Homo sapiens: one gene and its partner. The protein of the gene in region 2 interacts with the protein of the main gene of each other region in a biochemical or structural test. Each region holds a gene or a part of one and is shown on either strand. Other genes may lie near its edges.

The links.
Region 1: the proteins of TF (region 2) and TFR2 form a complex in vitro, tested with the Homo sapiens proteins (one study listed by BioGRID).

The regions. Positions count from the first base shown.
Region 1 is NC_000007.14:100,631,550-100,638,575, reverse strand, and holds part of TFR2 (transferrin receptor protein 2), read left to right. Parts: intron 1-4,925; exon of another isoform or gene 4,926-5,019; coding exon 5,020-5,160; intron 5,161-5,235; coding exon 5,236-5,347; intron 5,348-5,452; coding exon 5,453-5,575; exon of another isoform or gene 5,576-5,653; intron 5,654-6,377; coding exon 6,378-6,494; intron 6,495-6,630; coding exon 6,631-6,770; intron 6,771-7,026. UniProt on the Homo sapiens protein: Mediates cellular uptake of transferrin-bound iron in a non-iron dependent manner. May be involved in iron metabolism, hepatocyte function and erythrocyte differentiation.
Region 2 is NC_000003.12:133,770,371-133,777,396, forward strand, and holds part of TF (serotransferrin isoform 1 precursor), read left to right. Parts: intron 1-137; coding exon 138-202; intron 203-5,062; coding exon 5,063-5,247; intron 5,248-6,678; coding exon 6,679-6,868; intron 6,869-7,026. UniProt on the Homo sapiens protein: Transferrins are iron binding transport proteins which can bind two Fe(3+) ions in association with the binding of an anion, usually bicarbonate.

The DNA of each region.
Region 1 (7,026 bases), on a different chromosome or scaffold from region 2:
GTTTCACCATGTTGGGCAGACTGGTCTCAAACTCCTGACCTCAGATGATCCACCCACCACGGCCTCCCAAAGTGCAGGGATTACAGGCATGAGCCACCATGCCCAGCCTAATTTTTAATTTTTTTTAGTAGAAACGAGGTCTCCCTATGTTGCCCAGGATGGTCTCAAACTACTGGCCTCAAACAATCCTCCCACCTCAGCCTCCCAAAATGCTGGGATTATAGGAATGAGGTACCGCACCCAGCCTGCTCAGGGCTTTTAAATTAAATTACAGGTCAGGCATGGTGGCTCACACCTGTAATCCCAGCACTTTGGGAGGCCGAGGTGGGCAGATCATGAGGTCAGGAGATCGAGACTATCCTGGCTAACATGGTGAAACCCCGTTTCTACTAAAAACACAAAAAATTAGCTGGGCGTGGTGGCGGGCACCTATAGTCCCAGCTACTTGGGAGGCTGAGGCAGGAGAATGGCATGAACCCGGGAGGCGGAGCTTGCAGTGAACCGAGATCGCGCCACTGCACTCCAGCCTGGGCGACAGAGCAAGACTCTGTCTCAAAAAAACAAAACAAATACAAAATTAGCCGGGCGTAGTGGCGCATGCCTGTAATCCCAGCTACTCGGGAGGCTGAAGCAGGAGAATCGCTTAAACCCAGGAGGCGGAGGTTGCGGTGAGTCAACGTCGTGCCATTGCACTCCAGCCTGGGCAACAAGAGTGAAACTCCATCTCAAAAAAAAAAAAATTAAATTACATTAATTTTTTTTTGAGACAGGGCCTTGCTCTGTCACCTAGGCTAGAATGCAGTGGTGCAATCTGGGCTCACTGCAGCCTCGATTTCCCAAGCTCAGGTGATTCTCCCATCTCAGCCTCCTGAGTAGCTGGGTCTACAGGGAGGGGCCACCACGCCCAGCTAATTTTTCATTTTTCTTTTTTCAAAATTATTATTATTATTTAGGGACAGGATTTATTTATTTTTATATATTTGCAACCAATTCTCACTCTGTTGCCCAAGCTGGAGTACAGTGGCATGATCTTAGCTCACTGTAACCTCCGCCTCCCGGCTTCAGGTGATTTTTGTGCCTCAGCTTCCCAAGTAGCTGGGACTACAGGCGTGAGCCACCATGCCCAGCTAATTTATGATTTTTTTGTTTGTTTTTTGTTTTTTTCTTTTTTTTTGTGAGACAGAGTTTCACTCTTGTTGCCCAGGCTGGAGAGCAATGGCACGATCTTGGCTCACTGCAAACTCCGCCTCCCGGGTTCAAGCGATTCTCCTGCCTCAGCTCCCCGAGTAGCTGGGATTACAGTCATGCGCCACGACACCCAGCTAATTTTGTATTTTTAGTGGAGATGGGGTTTCTCCATGTTGGTCAGTCTGGTCTCGAACTCCTGACCTCAGGAGATCCACCCACCTCGGCCTCCCAAAGTGCTGGGATTACAGGTGTGAGCCACTGCGCCCGGCAATTTATGTATTTTTTTTAGGGACAGGGTTTCATCATGTTGGCCAGGCTGGTTTCGAACTCCTGGGCTCAAGCAATCCTCCTACCTTGGCCTCCCAAATTTCTTGGATTACAGGCGTAAGCCATGGTGCCCAGCCTGTTCAGGGCTACTTTTATTTTTTTGAGCAGTATTTGGTCATCTGGGTACAGGCTGAGCAGGTAGATAGTTTGACAGGTCTAGAAGCGGGGTGTGGCACTGAGGCAAAAGTAGCAGTTTTGGGGAGAGAGCAAGGATGTTGCAGTGAGCCGAGATCGCGCCATTGCATTCCAGCCTGGGCAACAAGAGTGAAACATGGCTCTCGGTGGGATGGAGAGGGAAGAGAAAGTGGGGGGAGATGATACATGTGGAGCTATAGGACATTTGTCATGTTCAATGGGGTTGAAGAGCAGGTACAGCGAGGATAACTGGGGGAGTTGGAACCTGACAGGGTCTACTCAGAGAGTAGGATTCTGGATCCTTGAAAACTTCCTGATACAATATATCCTGTCTATCTCAGAGTCTCCAGCACCTACCACAATGCCTGGCACTTACTAGATGTTCAGTAGATCCTCAATGGATAAGTATTCCAGAGATGGAGTGCGGGTAATGACAAGATGCAGGATACGGGCCAGGCACAGTGGCTCACGCCTGTAATCCCAGCACTTTGGGAGGTCAAGGCAGGTGGATCATCTGAGGTCAGGAGTTTGAGACCAGCCTGGCCAACATGGTGAAATCCTGTCTCTACTAAAAATACAAAAATTAACTGGGTGTGATGGTGCATGCCTGTAATCCCAGCTACTCGGGAGGCTGAGGCAGGAGAATCACTTGAAACTGGGAGGCAGAGGTTGCAGTGAGCTGAGATCGCACCAATGCACTCCAGCCTGTGAAACAGAGCAAGACTCCATCTCAAAAAAAAAAAAAAAAAAAAAAAGATGCAGGGTGTGACCAGGGAAGTGGAGTGCCTGGACTGGAGGTGACAATGATGAAGTAATTAATTCATTTATCCAACAAGTATTTTGGGGCATCTACTACGTGGCAGGTACTAAGCTAAGCAGGTGGTGGTGAGATAGAGACTAAAACAGTCTAACTTTGTTCTCATGGTGCTTACAATCCACTGGAGAAAACCAATACTAAACTAACAATCATTCACGACTACATAATTATGACTGGAATCATTGCTTTGAAAGAAAAGCAAAGGATGTGAGGCTCAGTGTGGTGGCTCACACCTGTGAGCCCAGCACTTTGGGAGGCTGAGGTGGGAGGATCTCTTGAGCCCAGTTTGAGACCAGCCTGGGCAACATAGAGAGATCCTGTCTCTTAAAAAAATAATAATAATTTGACCAGGCACGGTGGCTCACACCTGTAATCCCAGCACTTTGGGAGGCCAAGGCAGGTGGATCTCCTGAGGACAGGAGTTCGAGACCAGCCTGGCCAACATGGTGAAACACTGTTTCACCCTTTTTAGGCTCTACTAAAAATACAAAAAAAATTAGCTGGGCATGTTGGCGGGCACCTATAATCCCAGCTACTTGGGAGGCTGAGGCAGGAGAATTGTTTGAACCTGGGAGGTGGAGGTTGCAGTGAGCCAAGATTGCGCCATTGCATTCCAGCTTGGGCAACAAGAGTGAAACTCCATGTCAAAAATAATAATAATAATAATAATAATAATTTTTTAAAAAAGAAAAATAAAAAATTAGCCCAGTATGGTGGTGCATGCCTAGAGTCCCGGCTATTCAGGAGGCTGAGGCAGGAGGATGGCTTGAGCTTAGGAGCTGAAGGTTGCAGTGAGCTATGGTCATGCCACTGCACTCCAGGCTGGGTGACAGAGTGAGACCCTATCTCCAAAAAAAGAAAAGAAAAGGGGCCGGGCGCCATGGCTCATACCTGTAATCCCAGCATTTTGGGAGGTGAAGGTGGGCTGATTGCCTGAGGCCAGGAGTTTGAGACCAGCCTAGCCGACATGCCGAAACCCTGTCTCTACTAAAAAAATACAAAACTAGCTGAGTGTGGTGGTAGGCGCCTGTGGTCCTAGCTACTCAGGAGGCTGAGGCAGGAGAATCACTTGTACCCAGGAGGCAGAGGTTGCAGTGAGCTGAGATTGCACGACTACACACCAGCCTGGGCGACAGAGCGAGACTCCGTCTCAAAAAAAAAAAGAAAGAAAGAAAGAAAAAAGAAAAGAAAAGTGTGTAAAGAAAGACTATAACCAGGATCCTGATTTAGATTGCAGTTCAGGGAAGGCTTCGTTGAGGAACTGACGAGTCTAAACTGCCAAGATGAGTAATTTGCCAGGCAAAGAGACTGTGGAAAAACATTCAGGCTGAGATTCACCATTTGCGAAGGGTCTGAAATGTGAAGATGGTGGCCTCTTGGAGGAAGGGAAAGATGGTCCATGTGGCCGGTGAGGTGGATGTAGCTCAGGCCCTAAAGGGCCTTACTGGCTACTTTAACTGTTTTGAATTGAATTTTCCTGCCTCATCCCTGAGTGATCCTCCCCACTCCCCTCCCCATAAGCACCTTATCTCACGCTTTTGATGTGTAGCTTTAAATACACATATGGGGCGGGTCGTCATGGTTCATGCCTGTAGTCCCAGCACTTTGGGAGGATCGCTTGAGGCCAGGAGTTCAAGACCAGCTTGGGAAACACAGCAAGACTTCTCGTCTACAAAAAATTTTTAAAAATCAGCGGTTGGTGGCGTACACCTGTAGTCCCAGCTGCTCAGGAGGCTGAGGCGGGAGGATGGCTTGAGCCCAGGAACCGGTGATTCCCCTGAGTACCTTGGTGTAAAGTGTCTCCATGAGGCCCACGTGGAGGATGGGGGAGATGAGGAGGGTCTGCTGCCTGCCCAGTTAGCTCTTTCGAAGGAAAGTGTTTGGGTGCTGTGTGTGTGTGTGTGTGTGTGTGTGTGTGTGTGTGTGTGTGTTGACGTCGGGAGGAACGAGGTTGGGGGAGAGAGTTTGGCTTGAGCCGGGAAGAACCTACAGGATGATGGGCAGGACCCCCAGCTATGGGAAGTCAGGTTTTAAGCAGAGTGAGGTCCTGAGAGTCTCCGGCGCCGCCCTGGTGGTGATGGGAGAAAATGGGTCCGCGGAGGGCCCTGCACTGCGGCTCGCGCCTGTAATGCCAGCACTTTGGGAGGCCGAGGCGGGCAGATCACCTGAGATCAGGAGTTTGAGACCAACCTGGTCAACATGGTGAAACCCGTCTCTACTAAAAATACAAAAATTAGCCGGGCGTGATGGCACGTGCCTGTAATCCCTGATACGAGGGAGGCCGAGGCAGGAAAATGGCTTGAACCAGGAAGGCGGAAGTTGCAGAGAGCCGAGATTGGTCCACTGCACTCCAGCCTGGGCGACAGAGCGACACTCCGTCTCAAAAAAAAAAAAAAAAAAAAAAAAAAAAGCGTCCGCGGGGAGCGCTCTTTTCCTAAACTCAGGAACCCCTCGCCGCCCCTGCCCCTGGCGACCCCACGTCTCTGGCATCCTTCCCTCTTCCCTCCCTCTCCTCCGGGCGCCCAGAAAAGTCCCCACCTCTCCCCGCTTAGGCAAACCAGCCTTCGGGAACGGGTGGCAGGCTCGGCCGGGATGGCCGCTCTGACTCAGGACATTCGCGCGGCGCTCTCCCGCCAGAAGCTGGACCACGTGTGGACCGACACGCACTACGTGGGGCTGCAATTCCCGGATCCGTGAGTGCGCGCGCGGGCGGGGGGCGCGCGGGGAGGGGGACGCGGCTCGGGGCGCTCACCAGCCCCGCTCCCCAGGGCTCACCCCAACACCCTGCACTGGGTCGATGAGGCCGGGAAGGTCGGAGAGCAGCTGCCGCTGGAGGACCCTGACGTCTACTGCCCCTACAGCGCCATCGGCAACGTCACGGTGAGCACCCCCTGCCCGCTCCTAGGATGGGGCGCGGCACGAGCCCTTTCCTGGGTCTCGAAGGAGGGACGCGGGGAGCGCGCCTCACCGTCCTCGTGTCCCCAGGGAGAGCTGGTGTACGCCCACTACGGGCGGCCCGAAGACCTGCAGGACCTGCGGGCCAGGGGCGTGGATCCAGTGGGCCGCCTGCTGCTGGTGCGCGTGGGGGTGATCAGCTTCGCCCAGAAGGTAAGTGTCCCTGGACAGAGGGAGGGCTTGAGCCCGGGAACCGGAGGGTCGGACTGCCAGTGAGAATCGTTCAGGGTGCTGTGAGAGGGAGACAGGAAAGAACCATGTGGCTGGATGGTAAGAAAATATAAGCTGGGCACGATGGTTCTCACCTGCAATCCCAGCACTTTAGGAGGCCAAGACAGGAGGATCGCTTGAGGCCAGGAATTCAAGGCAACACGGTGAGAACCCCCTCTCTACTAAAAAAAAAAAAAAAAAAAAAGGTTCTTTTTTTTTTTTTTTTAGTTAGCTGGGCTGGTGGCACATGCATGTGGTCCCAGCTACTCCGGAGGCTCCGGTGGGAGGATCGCTTGAGCCCAGGAGTGCCAGGCTGCAGTGAGCTATGATCGCGCCACTGCACTCCAGCCTGGGCAAGAGAGACTCTGTCTCAAAAAGAAAAAAAAAAAAAAGAGAGAGAAACAGAGAAGGGAGGGAGGGAGGGAGGAAGGAAGGAAGGAAAATGTTGGCTGGTCTGGGAATTGAATCAGAAGGAAAAAAGAAAATGTTGGCTGGGAACAAATTGGGTGTTGGGGGAAATCAGATGGGGAAGGGAACAGAAACATGGGGTACCCTGGAGCCCGGTGGGGTTTGAGGGCTGCCTAGGAGCTGCTGAGGTTGGGAAGACACAGGCCAGGTAGTGCCCCCACATCCTCTCCGTGGGATGGACAGTTGCAAGCAAAGGCCTTGCCATTTCCTGGTTTCTCCTGCCCTTATGAATCGGGTTTTTTTCTGGGAGGAGTCCTCTAGTCACCTTCCTCCCCAGGTGACCAATGCTCAGGACTTCGGGGCTCAAGGAGTGCTCATATACCCAGAGCCAGCGGACTTCTCCCAGGACCCACCCAAGCCAAGCCTGTCCAGCCAGCAGGCAGTGTATGGACATGTGAGTCTGGGGAGGCTGGTCGTGCTGTTCCCAGGTCCCGAGGCCACACCTTCTTGCTCAGAATAGGGCTGGCATGTTTTTCGTTTTTCCTGGAAGCCCAGCTCGCAGCTTTGCGTGGGCACCCCTTTCCCTGCAGGTGCACCTGGGAACTGGAGACCCCTACACACCTGGCTTCCCTTCCTTCAATCAAACCCAGTTCCCTCCAGTTGCATCATCAGGCCTTCCCAGCATCCCAGCCCAGCCCATCAGTGCAGACATTGCCTCCCGCCTGCTGAGGTGAGGGGAGTGTTGGGGACCAGAAGAGGAGGAAGCAGAGAGAGGAAGGCTGCAGCGAGGCCACAGGGTGATTGTGGGTGAACTAGAAAAAGGTGACTCTTGTTTAAGCCTGCAGTGAGCCATGACTACACCACTGCACTCCAGCCTGGGAGACAGAGAGACCCTGACCTTTTTTTTTTTTTGAGATGGAGTCTTGCTCTGTCTTCCAGGCTGGAGTGCAGTGGTGCAATCTTGGCTCACTGCAACCTCCACCTCC
Region 2 (7,026 bases):
CATTGCTTACTGTTAGAATGGAAGTTACAGTTGCTGTTTTCAGATGGCTGTCCTGAATCTATAAGGTAGCCCCCTGAATGACAGATAAGTCACTCTGACCGCCTTTTTTTTTCTCTCCCACTTCTGGACCTCTGCAGGTGTCTGGTTGAGAAGGGAGATGTGGCCTTTGTGAAACACCAGACTGTCCCACAGAACACTGGGGGTAAGTGCACCTGCTCCTCTGTCCCCCTAGATCACTAGATCCTGGTCACTGGTATTCACTTGTATTCAGGGATGCCTTTGTGGAAGTATTATGTACACTGTCAGACTTCAAAGCTCTGATTCTCAGTCTGTCTGCTCAGTGAAGAGAGACATGTTCACCTGAGTGCGCAGAATGATCAGGATTATGGGGCCCCCAATGGCCCTAAATCCTCCCCAACACACACTCCCACAGCTGCAAGCCTTGTGCTCCTTTCCCCTAAATACTTCAGTGCCTATTTCCTAAGAATAAGACAATCTCTTGCATACCCACAGTATGATTACCAAGATCAGGATCTTTTACATTATGTGGATTTAATACTCGTCACGTCCACAGTCCACATTTAACTGTTGTCAGTTATCCCAGTAATGCCTTTTATAGCTATTTACTGTACTTCTGGGTTGTGTCCATTGAGAAGGCCTAGAGGCAATGGCATACCAGCAGGAGTAAGCACCAAGATATTGGCTTGTAAGTACTCTTCTTTACTAAAAGGAACCAGAACTCCTTGGAAAAATAGCTGACTTCAGGGCTGGGGCAGGAAAAATAGATGCTGAGCCTAGAACAACACACTGAAGTGCTCAAACAGTGATGGGACACTCAAAGCATACAAGAACCAATTTGAAGGATCTCCTGTTGCCAAGTCTGGGAATTTTGAGCATTAAAATAAATAATGATAGCAGTAAGGGATAATAGCCCATTGAAAGAAATAAGAATGCATGAGGCAATACTGATTAAACAAATGAAGAAGGGAAAACTAATCAATGTGGAAGGAATGATAGAGTTAGAAAACTATCACTTGGCAACCAATATATTGATAACTGATTCAAGCAAGAATCAATGGGTGTTAAGCCGGGCGCAGTGGCTCACGCCTGTAATCCCAGAACTTTGGGAGGCCGAGGCGGGTGGATCATGAGGTCAGGAGATCGAGACCATCCTGGCCAACAAGGTGAAACCCCGTCTCTACTAAAAATACAAAAAATTAGCCGGGCGCGGTGGTGGGCGCCTGTAGTCCCAGCTACTCGGGAGGCTGAGGCAGGAGAATGGCGTGAACCTGGGAAGCGGAGCTTGCAGTGAGCCGAGATTGCGCCACTGCAGTCCGCAGTCCGGCCTGGGCGACAGAGCGAGACTCCGTCTCAAAAAAAAAAAAAAAAAAAAAAAGAATCAATGGGTGTTAACTTGTGGGTGAACGTTGGACAGCCATAATATTAATAAAAACAAACAAAACAAAGCAAAACAAACATTGGCCAGACTGAGCACTCCACACCTGACCCCTCAGTATCACTAAGTGCTAGCAGAGCCCACTGGAATTCAAGCTGTGAATACTTCCCTGCCTTCTCTCATGTTCATTCCCCAACTCCTCACTTTTCCTGGGCAACTCATCCAGAATGAACCGGCTCAGCACCAGCCCCTCCAGGAAGCCTTCCCAGATGGCATACCCTGTCCTACAAGAAGACTCCTCTGTTCATATTGCCATTATGATTGAATTCACCACACTCTGTAATACACTTTGGCTACAGAAACTCTTTGAGCTCTTTTTCTTCATCTTATATTCCCAGAACCTAGTGTAGCACATAGTACACAGCAGTTGCTAAGAATTTGTTTGCAGAAATATTGGGTTGACTAATTTTCCTTTCTTCCCTCGTATTATTGCTTTTTCCTTTAAGAGAGTGTTACCCTAAGCTTGGCTCTTTGCCACCCTTGATTTCTTTTGGTACTTTTCTGAGTAGAGCTCCCTTCTTTAAGCTTTGACTCTCTTACTCTTTGCAATGACTCAAAAATTCTTCCCTCCTGCATAGAATTAAGATAGGAGGCCTGACATCCAATCTCAATTCCATTCCAGTCTATTTCCCAAGGTGTCACTTTTATGTAGAGAGTACATTGGCATTGCAATTGTATTTTTTTACGTGTGTATATGGATGTCCTCATATATTGTAGTTGTATATATACAATCCATATACAACTCAACTGTCCTCATCTTTCTGTCAACGTTCCCTCCTCTTCTCCCAGCCTCTATCCTTATAGAGAATCCTGCTATACTCCCTGCCCATCAGGCCTAGATTAAGTCTGTCAGTCAATATCTTATTTCTTCAAAACGTGTCTTTTTTCAAACTAAATTTTGAAATAATTGTGTGTATTTAAGGTAGACAACATGATTTTTAAGAGCCAAAGTAATTTTGATGTATTGTAAGTTTGGGAACTACTGGTCTAATACCCCTGACTTAATATCACATTCCTGATAAATATTACTAAATGTAAGTCACATCATGTCTGATTCATCATACTTATATTTTGCACCTTCTTACCTTCTTCTGTTATTAATTTGTTGCTTTTTCAACTTATATTTTAGATTGAGGGTACATATGCAGGTTTGTTACATGGTATACTGCATGATGCTGAGGTTTGCGGTATGATTGAACCTGTCACCCAGGTAGTGAGCATAGCACACAACAGGTAGCTTTTCAACTCTTGCCCCCCTCTCTCCCTCCTCCAAAATCTGTCTTAAGTGCTATGGTATATACAAGAAGGAAGACACAAAACCACGTGGGCTTTTTTTTTTTCTTTTTTTTCTTTTTGAGATGGAGTCTCACTTTGTTGCTAGGCTGGAGTGCAGTGATGTGATCTCAGCTCACTGCAAACTCCGCCTCCCAGATTTAAGTGATTCTCCTGCCTCAGCCTCCCAAGTAGCTGGGACTACAGGCGTGCACCACCACGACCAGCTAATTTTTGTATTTTTAGTAGAGACGGGGTTTCACCATGTTGGCCAGGATGGTCTCCATCTCTTGGCCTCATGATCCGCCCACCTCGGCCTCTCAAAAGTGCTGGGATTACAGGTGTGACCCACCGCGCTCAGCCCACATGGGCTCTTTTATCACAATTTGTGTGTGTGTGTGTGTGTGTGTGTGTGTGTATGTGCATATTATAGGTGTGTGTAGGAAAAAGAATGTTAGAAATGTACCAATTTTGAAGGCGTAGACTATGAAATTACAAATGCTTCAAAATTTTCTTCCCAATACTTACGTGGCATTTTATAAATTTCCACCAATAAACGTGTATTATTTTTATTGAAAAAGCATATTTTTAACATGCCCTTCTAGATGCCCTCCTAGCCAGACTGAATCACCTCCCATTTGATTTTTCTTAATTTTCTACCTTTAGGTTCTGGCTCATTCATTAACATCAATTTCCATTCATAAGTCCTCACAAACCCACTTTTCCTCTTGCCTGAGTGCCTCACATACCCTACTGCCTGAGATGGTTCCAGAGGCGGTCTCCTCTCTCCCTTAGAAACACCAGGCACACACCTGCCCCCAGTCTCGCCTGCACTCTCCTTTCCTCCCGCAGAGAGGCATTCCTTTCTCCTCCTCTCATCCTACACACACTATAAGAGACAACTGAAATCTTGCCTCCTCCAGCCAGCTTCTTAATTCATTTGTTCTCAAAGCCCTGGTTTGAGCTCACACAGCATCTAGAGTGTTTTACAAAATATAAAATATTATTATCCCTGCCCTGAATTTTTTGTTTTGGTATGTGTGTTATTTTCCCCTCCAATAAGATTGTGCCTTGGAGAGGGCTGAGAACATAGTATCATAGATAAATGAATAAAATAACATAAAATAAAATAAAAATACATATACCCTTTGAACTAACTATTCCACTTCTATGTAAGCACAATTATATGCCAGTAACACTCATTTTAACGCTACTTTAGTGGCAAAAAATTGTAAACACCTCAGATGCCTATTAAAAGAGGAATGGTTTAAAGATACTATTATAGCCACACTATGAAATATAATACAGTAGTTAAGAAGAACGAGCTTGATTTGTATGTACTGACAAGAAGAATCTATAAGGTATGTAAACAGTTGAAAAAAAAGCTACAGAGTTTTACATTTGTCAAGATCTAACACTAAACAAAATTAGAAACATGTGAAATCCATATACACACGTAGAAAAATACATATAATGAGCCGTGGATGGAAACTCGCAAATGTGATATTAAAGACTAGCACTATAAGACTGAGTGAGATTTGGAGAGTATAGGAAAGGAGGCTTTTAGTTAATATAGAGAGATATTCAAAAATTTATGAGTGTGATCTCATGTATTAGTTATTCGGTTAAAGAAACAAAATTAAATGAAAAATACATTTTTAAAAAGGTTGCAATTCTGAATTATGGGAGAGAAATAAAAATTAGCAAAACATATTTGCAAAGTGGCTCAGGAGGAAGGAGCTGAAACCCTAAGAATGGGTGAGTTTTTTTTTTTTTTCAGAGACAATACAGAAAAGAAGAGGCAAAGGGGCCGAGATGGGATACAGACCTGTATCACACAGGTGTGTGCACATTCTCATTTAGAACTGGAACAAGGGAGTCAGATTTAAAATTCTGGTGCAGATTCCAAAGGTGTTCTCTGAGGAAAAGTTCTTTTGTTTGGAGATGCCATGTGTTACAGCACAGAAATTGATCAACCTGGCTTAGAGCGTCACATTCTTCCTCTGTTGGAGCAAGAGGTACAGAAGGAATTGGAATTTAGTGGAATTGAAGATCTTTTTGAACAGCATCTGCAGAATGTAGTTCATTCTCACCTGGCTGGGTAGGGAAGGTTGGAAGGGGATGGTCAATAATCATTCCTGGTCACTGTGAGTCTGGCATCACCTTGTAGACCACATGGGTGTCTCTTCCTGTCCACATCACTGTAACCCCAGTGTGGGCACTTCTGCTGGCGAGAAGGCCCAGGTTCTCTACACACCACTGAGTCAGTTCCATCTCCCCAGCGGGGCACCTTGACCAAAGCCATCAGCTGAACCACCTTCTTCCTGTCCCTAGGAAAAAACCCTGATCCATGGGCTAAGAATCTGAATGAAAAAGACTATGAGTTGCTGTGCCTTGATGGTACCAGGAAACCTGTGGAGGAGTATGCGAACTGCCACCTGGCCAGAGCCCCGAATCACGCTGTGGTCACACGGAAAGATAAGGAAGCTTGCGTCCACAAGATATTACGTCAACAGCAGGTATGGACCAGCCAGGTCCTCCCACCTTTTCTTCCTAGATGGCCATAGGCTATTCGGGGGGAGTTTACAACAAAGTGCAGCCATGACTCCAGCACTTTCTTTTTGAAAACTAGAATTCCATGCATTGTGCATTTCATGCCATGCATTGTGGACTAGAGTATCAGGGTTCAAATCACAGCTCCACAGCTTCCTAGTTGTGCCATCTTGGGTATGTTACATAACCTCTCTATGCCTCAGCTTCCTCATATATAAAATTGTAATAATAATATTTTTACCTACTTCTCAGTTAACATGAGTATTAAGTGAAGACATGCACCCAAACGGCATAGGAAAATTCCATTTCCTATAGGACGTGCTCAAAATATGTTAGCTGTGTAATTATGGAACTAGACCTCTCAGGCCCAGCTCTGCTTCTAGCTCCTGGTCACTGGTGATTAGATCTGATCCATGTACTCTTGGGACTAGGAATCTGCCTTTCTGCTCCCCCTAACCTTGTTCAGGGGTACCCTCATTTCCCCTACTCCTGTCCTTCCCGAAAATGAAGAAGACAGCTCCTGTTTCCCAGCGCTTGTTGATACGAGTCATGAAGAGTGGATTTCTGTTCCTCTTGCCTAGGCAGACTGAGCACTGTTCTCAACAGTCTGAAAAACACAGGACCCTTGCCCTCGGAGAGCCTGCCCTCTGGGGGAACAACCACTCAGGGCCAGCCTTGTTGAAGACAGGGGCTGCCTGAGTATTCTAATCCTAAAGGCCCCTCCACACACACACATCACCTTCCTTTTGGGCATAGCTGCCTGCTGTTGATTCACCATTACCTTTTTTTAAAAAAAATAAGAGTATATTTGAAGTCCTTTTAAGGTACATGACAATAATAAGCATTTAACATACATTTCCTAGCTGCTATATGGAAAGTTCAACATTTTGCAGTCATCATTTCACTTACAACCTTTGGAGATCTGGAGAAGCTGAGTGGCTTGCCCAAGAAAGGATTCAAAATGCAGTCAAACATGAACTTTTAAGAACTACCTCTGCCACTCCTCTGGGAGGGTTCACATTTAACATCTTCTTTGACAATAACATCTGAAGGGACATGTTATTGTCCTCTCATTTCCTATAAGCAGCCCCCAGTGAAGGGCAATGAAGTGGGGAAGAGAGGTCAGAGTAGGCAGGCATGGGTGTGGGTGGGAGGGACTTATCAGAGGAAGGTGGGACCAGGGACCCTATAGATGATTTTGGGGGCATCATGAAAGCATGCAGCTGGGGCCCTAAGTGGATAAATGGCAGATAAAGGAGGTGGAAAATTCCCAAGACATACTCCGTAGCTTCCCTTTTTCCCCAGGGCTGGTTCAGAGCTTTCAGACTCTTCTCATCCATGTGTTCCCAGCTGCTAAAGACCACAAGGTCCTCACGGACTTTCTGTTCACTTGACAGCACCTATTTGGAAGCAACGTAACTGACTGCTCGGGCAACTTTTGTTTGTTCCGGTCGGAAACCAAGGACCTTCTGTTCAGAGATGACACAGTATGTTTGGCCAAACTTCATGACAGAAACACATATGAAAAATACTTAGGAGAAGAATATGTCAAGGCTGTTGGTAACCTGAGAAAATGCTCCACCTCATGTGAGTAGGAGGAACAGCATGGGGAAGTGGCAACCAAACATGGTGGTGAGTGCTGGGATGGTGGGTGGGTACAGGAGGGGTAGGCTGTGGCCCTTGGGATAGGACAACATGGACAAAATGAAATGGTGAGTGAACAATCTAAGCCCGGCATGTATGAC